Linked DNA regions of Homo sapiens: region 2 is linked to region 1. Evidence: fine-mapped expression QTL. A gene starts in region 1. The other region holds a variant in brackets. All regions are shown on one strand. Distances are from middle to middle. Region 1 holds the start of HOXA4 (homeobox A4). Region 2 has its middle 71 kb from the start of HOXA1.

Region 1 (5,376 bases):
ACCTATGTGTATATTATTTTTTCTTGCTAGGGAGAGATATTGGTTCAGGTAGATGTATCACATTCTAAATTTTTCCTCCAGTCTAGAGAGGATGGCTAAAGATTACACTCAGTGTTGATTTCTGTCTGTGGCTCAAATTTCTTTAAAAACAAATTTTCAGGGTGCCTCATGTGAATGGACAGCACTCTTCACACTCATATACACCTAACGTGGAAAATCTCTTTGTACCTCTTCAGGGTGATTCCAGTTAGAAAGCTAATATGATCCCCTTTTTAACCTCTTTTCCTAAATTAGTTTAAAGATTAGTCCCATATAATAGGCTTTATGTGGCTAAGCATTAAGTGACTATCCATCAAATGGATATATTCCAGCATTTAGTAACTCATATGAGTAACCAGTATGAATGAAGATAGAATTGACATTCCTTTTCAAGTGTCTCCAGGCTTAGGAAATAATTTTCCTTGTCTGCGTTCCAGACTCAGTTGTGAGAAGGCTGTTTATACTGCTCTTTGAAAAATCAACTAAGGTGCACCAGCTGAAAAATCCTTGCTTTTGCATGCCAATATGAAAATATTTTTAGAATGGTGACTATGCTAGTTTACACTGCTTTAATTTAGGCTGAAAAGTAGAGGATCTAGATATGTCTACTACTCAGAAAAGAAAGGGAGAAAGCACACAGCACAAATAAGGCATCAGTATTTACTTCAAAGATCAACATTAGGTGGAATTAATAAGTAATTTATTTGTTAATAATGGCGTAATTAGTGTACCCATCAAATTTCAATTACCAAATAGCAGGCAACAGTCTCCTCTCCCTCCTTTCCGGAGCTTCTGATATCGTTAATACGCTAATTTTCAGCAATTCAGAAATTATAGACTGTCCTGCAAATATAACTCTAGCCTCAGATACTGCCTGAGAAAGCAGGATCTAAAAGAGAAAACATGAAATTCTTAGCTGGAAAAGACCCATCAGCGATCAGACCCGGCAAGGTGTTTATTCTACCCTTAGCTTGTTTTTGTTTGGGGATAGTTCTGAAATAGGAAGTTATTGTTTTCAAAGCTCGGTTCTGTGGAGGTGTTGCTTCTATCCATTCCCATCCTTGGGCCACCTTCTCTCTCACAATCGCACCTAGTAAATGCGGGCATATTTAGCTCTCACATCGACAACCCCCGTCAAATTAGATGCTATTACGAAGGTTCCAATTTTTCTTAGGAAAACACGAAACAGATTGTCTCTGAAAGAAGGAAAAAATGAAAAGTGTCCATCCAGTTATAATGGAATGGCCTCGATTTACATCCTTGGGTCGATTTCTCTTAGCTGCCCGCCCACCCTTTGCAGCTTCTGCCAAGCTTCTCAAAGCAAGGGCTCTCAGGCTGACACGCAAGGAGCAGGGTGTGGGGAAGGGGGATCTGCGGTTGAGAAAATGTGTCTGGTGGCCTCTCAGTGGCGTACATAAAAACCAGGATGCCCCTCGGTCCCAACGCCCTTCCTTTCGCCTGTTAGCCTAGAACCCCTGAAGGACACGAAGCCTGACTGGGTTGCGCCCGAGGTCAGCGCTGAGTCGCGGCCGCCAGACAGCCCGAGGCCTAGGCCAGCAGTAGGGCAGGCAGAGGGCTCCCGAGAGGACCTACAGCCTGACAGGGCCTGAATTCCCAGCGGGAACCAAAGCTGGGGGGCTGGGGTCCAAAGCTCCTGCTCCCTCCCCCAGCCCAGGGGCCGGACAGCAGCATCCATCACGCACCCGCGCGTTTCCTGATCCGGGTCCGCGCGCGCGGTGCGCCCATTGGTGGGGGCGCTGCACGTGGGGCACGGGGCGGGGCGCGCGCTGGGCTGGGGAGGAGCGGCTCGAACTTTGGTGGCGGCGTCTGCGGGAGGGGGAGGAGTGGGCACTTGACAGCGGGGGGAGGGGAAGGGCGCAGAGGAAAGGGGGATGGGAAGCGAGGCAGGAGGGGGAGGGGCCTCGGCAAGCCCAGAAAAAACGACAACGCGAGAAAAATTAGTATTTTTGCACTTCACAAATTAATGACCATGAGCTCGTTTTTGATAAACTCCAACTACATCGAGCCCAAGTTCCCTCCCTTCGAGGAGTACGCGCAGCACAGCGGCTCGGGCGGCGCAGACGGCGGCCCGGGCGGGGGCCCCGGCTACCAGCAGCCCCCAGCGCCCCCGACCCAGCACCTGCCGCTGCAGCAGCCCCAGCTCCCTCACGCGGGCGGCGGCCGAGAGCCCACTGCCTCCTACTACGCGCCGCGGACCGCCCGCGAGCCCGCCTACCCTGCTGCCGCGCTGTACCCCGCGCATGGGGCCGCGGACACCGCCTACCCCTATGGCTACCGCGGCGGCGCCAGCCCCGGGCGGCCGCCCCAGCCCGAGCAGCCCCCGGCGCAAGCCAAGGGCCCAGCGCACGGCCTGCATGCGAGCCACGTCCTGCAGCCCCAGCTGCCGCCGCCCCTGCAGCCTCGCGCCGTGCCCCCAGCGGCCCCGCGGCGCTGCGAGGCGGCCCCCGCCACCCCAGGCGTCCCGGCAGGGGGCAGCGCCCCCGCGTGCCCGCTGCTCTTGGCCGACAAGAGCCCGCTGGGCCTGAAGGGCAAGGAGCCCGTGGTGTACCCCTGGATGAAGAAGATCCATGTCAGCGCCGGTACGTGGCGCCGCTTGGGAGGCGCGGGAGGTGGGCCGGGGCTGGGCCTGGGTTCGAGGGTCGGGGTCAGGAGGGAGAGGCTCAGGGGAAGGGGGCCTCGGGAGGGGAGCCCCCATCTGACCCGGGCTGCGGTGAGATGTGGGTATGTGCGCGCCAGCCAGCCGCCTGATCCCAACATGAGAACCCTTTTGTACCCAGGGTCCCTTTATCAGGAGATTTACGAGACGCCAAACTGTTAGGGCAGTAATTATAGCCCCCATAAATTTAATTGCCCTGGCAGAGGCTTCAGGCCATGTGTCTTTGAAGCTTTTCTTCAGCCCCAATGCCCAGCACCATTCTTTATGGCTCTCGGGTGTTTCCCGTTGTCAATAGCCTGTGAAACATTTTCTTTGCCGTTTTATGTATCTTGCGTGAACTTGGTGTCAGGTTATTATATAATGATGATGTCCAATTGCTCTTCCCCACCCCACCTTCTCTCTCCTCCTCCTTTCCCTCTCTTCCGCTCCCTCCTCCTTGGCCTTCTATTTCGGGGTTCTGGGTTTTCAGTTAACCCCAGTTATAACGGAGGGGAGCCTAAGCGCTCTCGAACCGCCTACACCCGGCAGCAGGTCTTGGAGCTGGAGAAGGAGTTCCACTTCAATCGATACCTGACCCGGCGGCGCCGCATCGAGATCGCCCACACGCTCTGTTTGTCTGAGCGCCAGGTCAAGATCTGGTTTCAGAACCGGAGGATGAAGTGGAAGAAAGACCACAAACTGCCCAACACCAAGATGCGATCCTCCAATTCGGCCTCGGCCTCTGCCGGCCCACCAGGGAAAGCACAAACTCAGAGCCCACACCTCCATCCCCACCCCCACCCGAGCACCTCCACACCCGTTCCCTCCTCCATATAATCTTCTAGAGATCTTAACCAGTTTCTATCCCTTACCTGCTTTTCTCTTCTCTTCTCCTGCTCCGTTCCTCATCCACCCCTCCCCATCTGGACCATAATAGACACCAAAACAAACCCAAATTGGTGAAAAGAATAATCAAAAAGAAGACATTATCCGGTTAAGAGTCTGTGCTGGTTGCCACCCAAGAGAGAACAGTTGTCCAGGATGCTGGCTGGTGGAACAACCTGCTGGCCCGAAACAAGGCTGCCAGGTGTGGATACCTGAGAAGGACTACTTGGTATCAAATACTTTTGAGATGGCTACAGTCAGCTAGCTGGACAGCCCATGCTGAGTGGGGACATACACTTGCATCTTTGTTGAAAGCAGAAGAAGACAGACCCTTTCCCCACCTTCCTTACCTCCTCTTCCCCCATTAAGGCAGCTCATCCAAGCTTGTATTTAACTGAATAAATGAGTAGACATTGTGGACCTCACAAGATTATTTAATTCTTAAGATGTGTAGACCTTGATGGTAGGTGTGACATGTTAGTTTTTCTTACTTGCATTTATTTAAGACACTGTTACAGAGATACTGTTGTCCCCTTCTGGGGCACGGTCTTTGGGGAGAGGGGAGTGCATTTAGACTTATGTGGAACTGTACAAATTGTGATGTGGCTACATAGAAAGCCATGTGCTAAGAATAAACTCCATTTAAAAAACATTAAAAATCTAAGATTCATGTGTTTTCTAAGCTTTTCATTAAGAAAACAAAAGTCCTCTGGATTGAGATACTTGACCTTGCATGTAAAAACCTTGTAGATAGCTTGAGCTGGATTCACTTGGATTCTGACGGCTCACATAATTTGTGTGTGAGAGTGTGTGTATGTATGTTCAACTTGAGCTGAACTCTTGTCAAGCTTGGCCTACTGTGGAAAAGTTCCAAAGAGTAGGAAGGCTCTTGAGCTCTGAGAGGGCTCCTCTTCTTCCCAAACTTGGCCAGGCTTTCAGGCTTCAAGTCTCTGTAAGGCATAGAAACGTGTCCTTCCCTGCAATGAAAGTTGAAACCATGCAGTGCTGTGGGCCCAGGAGTTTCTGCAGCTGTTCTACACACTGAACTCTGAGCACACTTGGAAAGAAGTGGTCTCTTTGGTATTTGGTATTTGTTGCACCTTCACACTTAATCTGCCTGTTTCCCAGGAGATAAAAAATAGTTTGTGCAAAGGGTTGAGATTAGTTTTTGTTTCCTGGCTGTTCTTAAGGTCCTCTTCACTAACTACAGACTGGGAATTTTTGTTTGTTTGCTTGTTTGTTTCTCTTTTTTGAAGAAAGAGCTTTCAAATAAACTGAATTTTACAAGTACACTCTCCAATGTCTCTTCTGAGGAAAAAGCATAATATACCCCTAAAGTTCACCCCATGCAAAGTAGACCTGGGAGAGTTTACTGCTGGAAAATAGCCAAACTGGGTCACTTTCCTCAAATGCTTTGTGAATTTTCTGCTCGATTCCAGAGATCTAGATCCAAAAGGCTGAAAATCAAAACCCACTTCTCGATCTCTATAACCCTAGTATTTGTTTACTGATTTAGATTTGATGCTTACTGCAGGGAGTTCCCTACAATAAGACCACAAAAACCTGTGCACACTAGCCCCAGAATATTAGAACTGTCACCTGGCCTTGAAAAAGTGCAACTTTTAAGTAATGTAGTAATTTTAGCATAGATGGGAGTAAGTGCTCACCTGCCTCTGCAATATCAGAGAATTTTTAAACACATTTCTCTCATTAGTGGCAAAACCCTTTAGCCAGTGTCAGAGCTGGTACCCCTTTCACCCCTGCTGCCCTGTGTGTGATACAAACAAGGGTGATCC
Region 2 (5,376 bases), 110 kb after region 1:
AGAGTTTAAAAAAGAAATTAAATACCTTAAACATGTGATGTTTAGTACTTTATTAAATGCTTCTTTTAATGACAGTATCAAGGAACAGTTTCATCTTAGGCATTCTAAGGTTAATAATCACATATGTAGGATTTTATGTCATAGTTTTGATATGGATTCATGGTTTCATACTGTTGATAAATAAGAAATAGCTTGTAAGCTATCACAGATCATCACTGTACTTTAAAAAATGGAATATAGCTGAAAAACGCAAATATATAATTTACACCAGTGTTACACAAATGTGATTTTAGGGATTGACAGTGAAATGTAAGTTTTTTTTGTTTTGTTTTGTTTTTTGAGATGAGTAGAGTCACACTCTGTTGCCAAGGCTGGAGTGCAGTGGCATCATTATGGCTCACTGTAGCCTCAATTTCCTTGTCTCAAGCGATCCTCCCATCTCAGCGTGCTAAGTAGCTAGGACCATAGTTGCATGCCACCACACCTAGCTAATTTTTTATTTTTTGTAGAAATGGGGTCTCCCTATGTTGCCCAGGCTGGTCTTGAGCTCCTGGGCTTAAGTGATGCTCTCATCTTGGCCTCCCAAAGTGCTGGGATTACAGGCAAGAGCCTCTGTGCTCAGCCTGATATTTTAAAATGTTAATGTTGCAAAAGATTTTCTGATCTGCGTGGTTAAGAAAGAAAACTTAATATTGCTTCTGATATTCAGCTATAAACTCAGGTGTTGTTTTGGAGGGACTGGTTTTTTATATCAGAAAGACAGTTATCAATATTCAGTATCAAAACAGTTGCACTATTGATTTCTCTTTCTCCCAATCGGCCCCAAAGAGACCACATCAAAGGAGAGTACATTTCAAGCCAATAAGCTGCAGGATGTACACCTAACAGACCTCATAGAAACCTTACCAGAAAATGGGGACTGGGTAGGGAAAGAAACTTTAAAAGATCAGCAAACTGCCAGCCCACGGACTGCAGAGGCTGTCACAGCCAGATGGGGGTGGCCAGGGTGCCACAAACCCAAGGAAGCAAAGTTTCAAAATAATACAAAATTTAAAAAAATTTTGTATATAAGGTATTCAAGGTTTCTCCAGCACTGACTGATACAAAGCACAATGAGATGGCACTTTTAGAGATAGCAACTTCAAACCCAGAAAAGGCTAATGAGATGAGTTTCACATGGCTAAATCAGTGGCGAAAACATAATCTTTCTTTCTTTCAAGAAGGTAGGAAAGCAATTAAGTAGTCACCTCAACCTAAGGGGCACGTGATCCATTCTGTAAGCAGTTGGGAGGACAAAAATTTGGTCTCAGAGGTCTTACCATCTTAATTTGGTCACTTCTAATGAAAAAAATTTGAAATAACGTTGTCCAAAGATATCTTTCTTTGTTTTTTTTGAGACAGAGTCTCACTCTGTCGCCCAGGCTGGAGTACAGTACATGATCTAGGCTCACTGAAACTTCCGCCTCCTGGGTTCAAGTGATTCTCCTGCCTCAGCCTCCTGAGTAGCTGGGATTACAGGCACACGCCACCACGCCTGGCTAATTTTTGTATTTTTAGTAGAGACGAGGTTTTACCACGTTGGTCCGGCTGGTCTCAAACTCCTGACCTCGTGATCCACCTGCCTTGGCCTCCCAAACTGGTGGGAATACAGGCGTGAGCCACGGCACCCAGCCAGGTTTTCAGCTTTAAAATATCTTTTTTGTTTTTTTTTTGTTGTTGTTTGGCTAACTCCTCCTGGAATCACCTTTCTGGTTTGGCTGGTATTTTGTACAGAGCAACGAGGTTTCTCATAGTGGAGTCTTTTCCTGGGCTCTGTTTGGCTCTCAGTAAGGCAGGCCTATACTTTTTCCTCTCCTCTATGGAGAGGGCAATATGCATTTAGCTGAAAAGTCACCTTCCGAAAGTGAGAAAGGGATTAGATTGCTGCTTCAGAGCTGTGGAATTATTTGGAATGTTTTGCAAATGGTTGCTACAAAACAACAAAAAAGGTAATTACAAAATGTGCGCATCGTAACATGCTTTTAAAGACACTTGCACATCATAACATGCTTTTAAAGACACTATGCATTGTGCTCACATTCCCTTAAATGTTGTTTCCAAAGGTGCTCAGCCTTTAGCCCAGCTGGAATCTCCAGGAAGAGGCAGAGACAGTTTGGCAAAAAAGAAACAGGGAAGGAGGGGGCTGCGAAAGTAGAAAGCAGCCCCCAAATTAAAGATCAGCCCTCAGTTAAAGATCAGCTTC[A/G]GGCAGGCCGGCCTCAGGTGGAGTCAGGGACAAAGGGAGGAGCAGCAGCAGGGTAGGACTGGGGTGTTCTACATCTCATTCAGGTCAAGCAGAGTCTGGTACAGCATCCTTTGTGTACAGAGGTTCTCCTCTTTGTTGCATTTCAGTTTATATTCCAAGTCATCAGTTGTCTTTTCCAGCTTGGCTACCAATCTCTCAGTAAACTCAGCACGGGTCTCTGCCTCCTTGAGTTTGTCAGTGAGAATCTTGATCTCTTCCTCATATATGTCTTCTTTTTGAGAGTATTTTTCTTCAGCATCACTTAGACACTTCAGGTTCTGGTCCATCAGTCTGATCTGCTCATCTGTCTCTTGGCAGCGGGACTCTGCCAGCTCAGCTCGTTCCTCTGTGCATTCCAAGTCTCCTTCAATGATCACCAACTTACGAGGCACCTCTTCATATTTCCTATCTGCCTCTTCTGCAATATGCTTAGCTTCTTTGAGTTGGATTTCCTGGAGTTCCATCTTTTTGTTTGTTTGTTTAAGACAGAGTCTCACTGTCTCGCCAGGCTGGAGTGCGGTGGCGCGATCTCAGCTCACTGCAACCTCCGCCTCCTGGGTTCAAGCGATTCTCCTGCCTCAGCCTCCCGAGTAGCTGGAACTACAGGCGTGTGCCATCACGCCCAGCTAATTTTTTGTATTTTTAGTAGAGACAGGGATTCACCGTGTTGGCCAGGATAGTCTCAAACTCTTGACCTCGTGATTCGCCTGGCTTGGCCTCCCAAAGTGCTGGGATTACAGGTTTGAACCACTGCGCTGGGCCCTTTTCTTCATCTTTTAAGGCCTGGTTTTATTTGTTTGTTTTGAGACGGAGTCTCACTTTGTTGCCCAGGCTGGAGTGCAGTGGCACGATCTCGGCTCACTGCAAGCTCCGCCTCCCGGGGGTCACGCCATTCCCGGGCCTCGGCAAGGCCTGGTTTTCAATAACCTTCATATCTCTTTCACTCTCATCAGCAGCTTTCTCCTCTTCTTCCAGCTTTTGCAGGGCAGTGGTCAGGCGCTCCTGAGCATGGTCCAGCTCCTCTTCAAACCTGCTGGATCCTACGATTCAAGGAGGCCACCTCAGCCTCCTTGTTCCCGGCCCACTTTTCTTCCTCAACTTCTCACTGGAGGCGCTCAGCTCTCTCCTCTGCATCATCTGCCTGCTGCTGCAGAACCTGGATCTTGCACTTCACTTCCTCCATGGTGGCGATCCCAGCCATGGTGCCGACCCAGCTACTGCTCCAGTTCTGGTTCCTGCCTCTTCTGCTCAGCATTGCAGCTGCTTCTCCTTTCTTTTATTTTTCTGTATTAAGTTTTGTTCCCTTTTGTTTTTAAAGCAACAGATGAAAGGAGATAAAAATGTCAAGGAAATACTGACTTGAACTTTATAAATATTGGTTCTGATTGGGGATGATAAAGCAGGTAAAAGAAAGGAGCTGAAGTATGACTGAAGGAATCAGATTTCTCTAACCTTGATATTCAAATTGTATTCTATAGATATGATTATAAATAGCAAGATTCTTTAGCATTTGGAGTTAATTAAATTGTGAGGAAGTTATCAGGGCACATTTTGTGTTCTTCATTACTCTGAGAAACTTTTCTGAGGTTCATTGAGAAAAATATTTTTAAACTCTGTGAAATCCAAGTAACTCTGGAGGAAAAGCAAATTGAGCAATTTGTTCTTTCCTCTTTGAGGTTTGATAAGGTGTAAAAATGTATTTAACAAAACAACTTCTTTTTCCTTAAAAATTTTGATCAATAACCCTGAAAAAGTTTTTTTTAATTCAATTCAGTATGTTAATTTTATGCTTTCCATAAATACATTTTTTGAATATTTAAGGTAACAGTTTCAGAAACATAACTGAATAGCTTGCTTGTTCTTGAACAAAGAGTTTGAATCTATGATGAACTAAATTAAGTTATGTCTTCCCAAGTAGTCCACTTAGACACTGACTTGTTACCCTCTTTCTCAAGTCCAGTTTTTCTGAGACTGGACCAGTTACATTAGGATCACCTTGGGTCTTTAGGTGTGATTATTGTATTGTGATAATGCTAAAAATATTCATTCTTTTTAGAGATACAAACTGAAGTGTTAGTGGATAAAATGTCAAGATATTTGGGATTATTTTAAAAAGAAATTAGGATGAAGGGTAAATGAGTGGCAATGTAGATGAAACAAGACTGGCCATATGTTTATTTATGGAAGGTGAGTGAGGAGTATGCGGGTGATGTTATAGTATTCTCTCTAATTTAGTTTAGGTTTAAAATTTCTATTGCAAATAGTTAAAAGAATCATTTGTGGTCTTGTTAAAAATTCAGATTCCTGGACTCCACCACAGATCTTTTAAGTCAGAGTCTCAAGGATGAAAGATAGAAAATGGCTTTTAAAGTAGTCCACTTGTGCTCACTGAAGTTTGAGGATCACTGGTAAAAAGTTTCCTTATGTACCTCACTCATTGTGTATCCATGTCATCCGTGTGTATTTAGTGTTTTTCATCATTCACCCTATTTTCCCATTTGCGGAATGCAATAGCAAGTTAAAGCAATTATACTGAATTTGGATAATTCAAACTTTAAAATTTTGTTTCAAAGCATTCATAAAGTGAAGCCAAATAAAATTTAAAAAACCTTTATTTTTAACTGAAATAATCAAATAAATACGTTGGCTTTTTTTTCCACTTTCAGCTGGGAATGGATTACTTTTGTGAATGTCTTAAATTTCTTCTCTTACCAGGGCATCAGCATCCTATTCCAGACATCTACTTGCTTTCACCAGTAGTTCCTTGTTCTTTCTCAGATGTACCATATTACCAGGCACCTCTGAGACTTTGCTTATGGGATTCCCTCTAATTGAGACATTCATCAATCCCCTCTTTACCTGGTTAATTTCTATACCTTCTCCCCACCGCTAACACCTCTCACTTATTCAGGGAGGCCATTATTGTATTTGCAAGGTTGGATTGCATTCTATTCTTTTGTGGTTCCATAATATGCTGTAATACAATAGTGCTATAATGCTGAACATGCTATATAGCACTTTACACTTTGTCATAAGACTCTATTTTTCTGCCCTCCTCTCTCTCTTCAGCTAGACTATAAAGTCAGTTGGTTAAA

What was found. PIP is the estimated chance that this variant, and not a neighbour inherited with it, causes the effect. A credible set is the group of variants that fine-mapping cannot tell apart.
Region 2: its variant is the best candidate, but not a certain one, in a credible set for the expression of HOXA4 in whole blood (TOPMed, PIP 0.70).

Annotation. Positions count from the first base shown.
Region 1 is chr7:27,127,381-27,132,756 of GRCh38, reverse strand. It overlaps HOXA4 (homeobox A4), which reads left to right and starts at 2,000. Exons shown (of 2, transcript NM_002141.5): 1 at 2,000-2,639; 2 at 3,186-4,232. The coding sequence starts at 2,024. The coding sequence ends at 3,532. The region is part of intron 2 of HOXA3 (homeobox A3); the gene reads left to right. It overlaps HOXA-AS2 (HOXA cluster antisense RNA 2), which reads right to left. Exons shown (of 4, transcript NR_122069.1): 4 at 3,997-4,557. RefSeq lists a silencer at 1,773-1,842.
Region 2 is chr7:27,021,844-27,027,219 of GRCh38, reverse strand. It overlaps the pseudogene TPM3P4. Among named protein-coding and RNA genes, the nearest start is that of HOXA1, 71 kb to the left of the region's middle. The variant A/G (reference allele first, on the strand shown) is at 2,243.